Linked DNA regions of Homo sapiens. The protein of the gene in region 1 purifies or fractionates together with the protein of each later gene. This does not show direct contact. Each region holds a gene or a part of one and is shown on either strand. Other genes may lie near its edges.

Region 1 (3,500 bases):
AGCACTAGCAACATGGCTGATGCTAGGTGGCCCCTCAGTACAATGGTAATCATCCTTGTGACTAATTAGGCCGTATCTAGCTCATCTGTAAAATGGGAACAAAATTAATTCCCCACTTTCCTCACAGAGCCTGCATTTTATTTGCTGCCACATTGGGCACCTGCAAAGTACTGAGGTTGCTGCTTTCCAAGAGCAGCTCTAATCTCTATAAAGACCGAGTGAGGTAGGGATCTTGGTTTTATGGATGATGAGCCTGGAGTTCAGAGGGGTTTGTGAGGAGCTCACCCAAGATCACACAGTTAGTAAGTGGTAGAACTGGGGTTTGATCTTCAGCTTGATCACAGCACTCTGTTTTTTCTCCCCACACTGTTGTGGTTGTGGGATAATGAATAGGGAAGTCATTAGGATGCTGAAAGGGGGCCTGGCATGGTGGCTCACGCCTGTAATCCCAGCACTTTTGGAGGCCAAGGAGGGCAGGTCACCTGAGCTCGAGAGTTAAAGACTAGACTGGCCAACATGGTGAAACCCTGTTTTTACTAAAAATACAAAAATTAGCCAGGTGTGGTGGCACACGCCTGTAATCTTGGCTACTCAGGAGGCTGAGGCACAAGAATCACTTGAACCAAGTGAGCCGAGATCATGCCACTGCACTCCAGCCTGGGCGACAGAGTGAAACTCTGTCTTAAAAAAAAAAAAAAAAAGATGCTGAAAGGGGGCCAGGCACAGTGGCTCATGCCTGTAATCCCAGCACTTTGGGAGGCCAAGGCAGGAGAATCTCTTGAGCCCAGGAGTTCAAGACCTGCCTGGACAATATAGTGAGACCCTGTCTGTCTCTATTTAAAAAAAGCAAAAGAAAAAAAAAAAAAAAGAAAGGAAAGAAAAAAATGGTGCTGAAAGGGGAGAGGGAAGAAGGCAGCCAGGGAAGAAGAGAGGGTTGGGCAAATCAAGAGGAAGCCAGGAAGGTGGGGCCAAGCCGACCAGCGCTGCTCCATGCCCGGGGGTGGGGGTTATGTGATGTCCGTGCAGTGCGCAGGGGAGCCTGAAAGCAGGTTCCCGCTCTCGGAAGGGGATGGAGGGCCACTGGCCTCTGACCCGCACTCCTCCCTTCTATCTGGTGCACCACAGAGTAAGTAGTGCGGGATAGTGGGGGGGAGCCCAGACCTTGATGTGAGGTAGAGCTGGCATTGCACGCCAGGTCCAGCACATTCTAGCTGTGAGCAGGTCCTCTCATTCTCGGAGCGTCAATCTTCTCATCTGTAAGAGGGGCTGTCAATGGTCCCTCCTTCCCAGGGCTGTGAGACCAGGGAATGCAGGTAAAGCGGACCTACTCTGTGGTTAGCCCATGGCTAATAGAACCATTGCCGGTGCCCCTGTCAACACTGAAGGCCCAGTTGCTTCACTGCCTCTCCTCCTGCCCAGCCAGTATCCTCAGCAACATGGCCAGCCCTGCTGGGAGCAGAGGTCCCTGGGAACATGGGGTTTTCTGGCCTGCCTGCTGACTGCCCTGTCTCCCCACAGCCATCTGTGAGGTCCATGCCAGCCTGGACCCCTCGCTCAGCCTCTTCTGCTCTGGCTCCTGGGAGCCCGGTGCGGTGCCTCCAAGCACAGAACACCTGGACCCTCTGCTGAAAGATGCTCCCAAGCACCTTCCCAGTTGCCCTGACAAGGGCTTCACAGGTGGGCTCCATCCCCTCCCCATAGAGGGGCTCTCACACAGGCCCTGGACAGAGCACTGGCCTCAGTGCCAGAAGGAGGCTTTTCTGGAAACTTGCCATGTGCCTGGAACATGTCACGTCACCTCCCTTTTTCCATCTGGAAAATGGTGACAGTAAACCTGGGCCACTCCAGGGTTACTGTGAAGGTGACATGAGCTGATGTGTATCAGTGCCAGATACAGGGCTGAGAACACAGGAGCTCACAAAGTCCAGTGTGATTTGTTGAACAAGCCTTCATTGATGCCTAATGGGCAGAATCCTGTGGACTCCGGGAACCTGCCTGGTCTGGGCTTTGGTTGGGGTTGGGTGGGAGGGTGGGTGAGGAGCAAGACCCTTTGTATATTCATCAAGTGCCTCTTCAGTGCAGGACACTTCAGGATCTCCAGCTGTGATCCTCTCCCAGCACTGTGCTGCCTCCCTGACCCCACCTCCAGGCAGCCTTCCTGAGCCTCTCACCCCTCTTCTTTTATACTGTAGCCTACCTGGTTCTTCTGCTCTTCTCATTCTCTTTCCTGTGAAGCCACATTGCCTGGTGGCTCAGAGCTTGGGCTGTCGAGTCAGATCCGAGTTTATATCCTGGTTCTACTGCTTCCTTTGTGTGAACCCTGACACCTGCCCTGCCCTTGGAGCCTCAGTTCCCACAGCCATAAAACTGGGGACAGTAGCAGAACCTACTCTATGGGGTATCTTTGAGGGTTGAAAAAAATACAGTGGGGCCAGTCCTGAAGCTAGGGTGTGGCAGGAGGGGCTCAGTAACTGGTCATTGTCATCAGCACTGTTTAACTTCTCTCTTGTATGTGAATCTGGTCTCTTGGGTGCATTTGTCAGCTGCTTGAGGGCAGGGACTCTGGCTGGTTGCTCTGGTGCCCTCATAGTGCCTAGGGCTGGCAAACAGCAGGCAGGCAGAGAGCATGAGGTGTCTCGGCAGGCATTCTAAACACGTGGAGTCTGCCTGTGGAGTTCCTGACCTCCAGGGAACCTCAAGTCTGGTAGGGCCGAGCCTCACATAGAAACTCTAACGTGGCAATCCCTGTCGAGGGCTGCAGAGTGGGACAGATCAATGCTCAGCAGTGCGGAAGCTACCTCAACACCCCACTTCCTGCAGCTAATGCCTCCCTGTGCTCTATGACTTGGGGCAGGTGTCACCTTTATCGTGAAGCCCACCTGGCACCACCTCCCCTCCTGCAAGCTTGGGCCAAATGTGGCTACTGGGTTTCAACAGGTCCTGTGCCCTCCCTCGGCACTTGTTGCTTAGTATTGGAATTGCCTGTGTCCTCATCTGACTGTTCCACTGAGCTGTGACTGCCAAGAGGGCCAGGCCCGTGCCCATCTTACTCACTGATGTCTCTCTCCACCAGGGCCTAGCACAGAGCAAGGGCCCAGGAAATATTTGTTGGAATGGATGCCGGTGTTAGAGCTGAATGGTATCTGAGGTTATCAGAACAGGCTTCCTAGCAAGGGTGTGATGGGAACAGGTGTTGAAGGGTGCACACCTGCAGGTGTCCATTTGTGTGACCCTTTGCCCAGCCCTGAGCTGCCCCCGACAGCCACTCGCGTCTGTTTTCTTTAGATAAACTGTTCTACATCTACACATCCGGCACCACAGGGCTGCCCAAGGCCGCCATCGTGGTGCACAGCAGGTAAGGGGCAGGTGCCCAGGGTGGGGTAGGCACAGGCAGGGCTGGGGAGCCTCCTTCTGCCTTTCTAGGGCCCGCTCAGCCCTTGGCCCTGTGCCTTCCCAGGTATTACCGCATGGCTGCCCTGGTGTACTATGGATTCCGCATG
Region 2 (3,500 bases), on another chromosome or scaffold:
GTGGTCACCATGAGCTTTCTGAATTTGAAGGGTTCTCTCTATTTTCTGAATTTGCTTTTTTAAGGGTTGGTTAGGTACACTTGCTATACCATATGTATGCACAGCAGCTTTAACTTCCACATCCCAATCCACACATTCTTCCATCAGACCAGAAGGAATGGGATCTACATAAAAAGGAAGAAAAATGTATTAAAATTCTCAAGCTACTCTAGACCACTGTTTTCTGAATGATTTCATAAAGTTTTCTATGATCAAATACATTTAAGAAACAATATGCAAATATACTAAGATGTTTAATAGATATAACATTTTTAAAGACTGAAGCAATCCTGTAATAAAGAAACCTGCCTAAGAAATATGTAAGACCCATCCCATACTCACAAGCACTATCTCCCCTCACTCTCACTAGAAAAAGAGCTTACTCTAGGAGTAATGTACAAGCCTGCAACAATTCTCCCATCTTTTCTCTCCTCCCTCTCCACAGCCCCTCCCCTTTATCTCAATACTTCTGACAGCAAAACAAGATATTAGAAAATGGATTGTGCTCCCCAAAGCTTATCAACTAGGAAATAATACAACTGCAACTCTGTACACCCAACTAAATCTGTCACCCAATATTCCAACAGGGAGAAATCACTGCCCTTAACAATAAAGAGAAAACCTCTATAGGGGAAAAAACTAGATGACTATGAAAAGATCTGTGACTATGAAAATCAGAAATGACATTTCTAATTTTTAAAAAATTTGCTGGCTTCAACCCTCTAAATTTTCTATTCCATCCAGGTGTGACAATTTGCTTCCCACACTCAGACCTTTCAAAGTGTGATCAATTTTTGTCTTAGGCAGACAAGATATATCAAGCCCCTGCTTTACAAAGATCTTGCCTGTTGTTGCTATTTATGCTCCATGTTATCTATAAATCCCACAGGTCTGGATACTTCAATGAAGTCTCTTGATCCTTTGCTGAACAGATTCTATGATTAAAACTCTCATTCCTACTCAGTTGATATCCCTTGCTTGCCTAGTCCTATAATACAGGCCAATTTCCCTCCTAGTTCTGCCCCAGGAAACTCATCTGAACATCTGTTGTTACACAAGTTCCCAGTCCAATACAGACCTAACAGCATGAATATCATTTTCTCATGATTTCAGGGCCCTATTAACATTACATAAAGATCCAAATATATCATTTTCCAGTATCCAAAGGCAATTTTTATCACTAGATGCTATGATATTGAATCCTACAAGAAGTCTTAACCCTCTTCTACCAATTTTCAATTTTTTTCCCATATCAGACTACGAATAGACTTATACACAGAAAGAACTGACAGTTTTAGAACTGACATAGAGCCTAAAGACCATTTACTCTAAAGTACTTTGCAAATCAGGACTCTAAGCTTACAGCAATTACAGAGATTTGTAAAAGATCATAAAATGAGTTATTACTAACCCGATCTACTAGAATACATAGAACTCCCAGATCTGTGCTTAATCTAGCTCTGTAAAATAATTAAATATAAAGTCGGTAAAATACTCAATTATATTTATTCAATAACTACATATCCTATATTCTGCAAAGTCATGTATATACTATATGTGTATTTTTCTTTTTTTTTTTTGAGACTGAGTCTCGCACTTTCGCCCAGGCTGGAGTGCAATGGCGGATCTTGGCTCACTGCAAGCTCCACCTCCCAGGTTCATGCCATTCTCCGGCCTCAGCCTTCCAAGTAGCTGGGACTACAGACACCCACCACCATGCCCGGCTAATTTTCTGTATTTTTTTTTAGTAGAGACAGGGTTTCACTGTGTTAGCCAGGATGGTCTTGATCTCCTGACCTCGTCATCCGCCCGCCTCAGCCTCCCAAAGTGCTGGCATTACAGGCGTGACCTATATGTGTATTTTTCTATATAGACATACATCTATATATGAATAGACACTATTTATAGTGCACATTTTCTGTATAACATGCACGTCAAAAATGCCATATTTCCACTCAAGGGTTTTTTAGAATTTTTTGTTTTTAAGAGATCATTACTAGTTTTAAACATGCGTTGTTTCCAAGAGGGCACTTAAAAAGAAGCAGAACAAATGACTGAACTGAAATCAAAAGAAAACATTTCACTCCAATTTTTCAAAATAGTATTCAAATTAAAGATGCTGTTCTTTCCACATGGTGACAAAGGAGAATATGGCAAGAATTACCTTCACAACAATTTAAGAGGTAAAATATCCCCCCTTGTATCAAAGAATAAAATCAAATTGCAAAGCCACTAACTAATAAAATAGAGCTAACATAGCTCTCATTTTTCTTTCTTTTTTTTTTTTTTGAGACGGAGTTTCACTCTTGTTGCCCAGGTTGGAGTGCAATGGCTTGATTTCAGCTCACTGCAACCTCCACCTCCTGGGTTCAAGCGATTCTCCTGCCTCAGCCTCCCAAGTAGTTGGGATTACAGGCACCTGCCACCACGCCCAGCTAATTTTTGTATTTTTAGTAGAGAAGAGGTTTCACCACATTGACCAGGCTCGTCTTGAACTCCTGACCTCATGTGATCCACCTGTCCTGGCCTCCCAAAGTGCTGGGATTACAGGCGTGAGCCACTGCGCCTAGCCAGCTCTCATTTTTCATGTGCCAGTGGTTAGCTTGCACTCCTCTCCGTGCTACTTACTAGCTGTAACACCTTTACTTACCCTCTCTATGTCTAAATATCCTCATCTACAAAACAATTGCACACACCTCATAGGAGTGTGGTGAGAAGTAAATGAGTTAACGTACATACAGGACTGGGAACAGTACCCAGCACATCATAAGCACTCTGTTAGCTATTATTATCATTTTTATTATGCTTATCACCACTATAATTATTTTGAAATAATGAAACAGATGAAATGTACCTGGTAAAGGGAGAAGGTTGATATTACATTTCTGGGCAATTCTCATCATCATATTTTCTTCCTCTCCCCGGCAACAGTAGGTCACTGTCAGCCCCAATGTACCTAAAAGCAGAGAGAATGTTAGGTAGTAAATCATTTTCACAAAAATAATATTCAAAGCCCACCTGTCACATTATAGATCCCTCCCCTTAAAGAAAGCACTCAAACTTTTTTTTTTTTTTTTACCAAAACGGCCAGCTCTCCCAATCCGATGCATGTATGTCTCCCAATCCAATGGTACATCCAGATTTACAACCAGATTCACCTTCTCAGCATCAATCCCACGAGAAGTCTTGAATTGAAGAAGATAGCAATTATTTGTTTGCATTAACTATACAGCATGGATACCAATGCATATTATATTCTTCCAGTACAGTCAAGAGACAAATTAAGAACTGAATACTGAGGAGCAGAGGAAAAGGAAATTCATTCCTAATGACTAATTTCAAGGACAAAGATAAACATATTAAAGACATTTTTAAGAAAGTATTTTCCTCAGCACTGGAAAGATAATTATCTTCTGGTATTCTTGTTAGATACGCCTACATAAAATAATATATGAAATCTG

Evidence for each region. The genes of interacting proteins can lie anywhere in the genome.
Region 2: the proteins of SLC27A4 (region 1) and DDX20 purify together in Homo sapiens (affinity purification with mass spectrometry; one large-scale study listed by BioGRID and IntAct). This does not show direct contact.

The regions. Positions count from the first base shown.
Region 1 is NC_000009.12:128,347,027-128,350,526, forward strand, and holds part of SLC27A4 (long-chain fatty acid transport protein 4), read left to right. Parts: intron 1-1,518; coding exon 1,519-1,677; intron 1,678-3,285; coding exon 3,286-3,355; intron 3,356-3,457; coding exon 3,458-3,500. UniProt on the Homo sapiens protein: Mediates the levels of long-chain fatty acids (LCFA) in the cell by facilitating their transport across cell membranes. Appears to be the principal fatty acid transporter in small intestinal enterocytes.
Region 2 is NC_000001.11:111,762,401-111,765,900, reverse strand, and holds part of DDX20 (probable ATP-dependent RNA helicase DDX20), read right to left. Parts: intron 3,225-3,500; coding exon 3,119-3,224; intron 2,996-3,118; coding exon 2,894-2,995; intron 165-2,893; coding exon 1-164.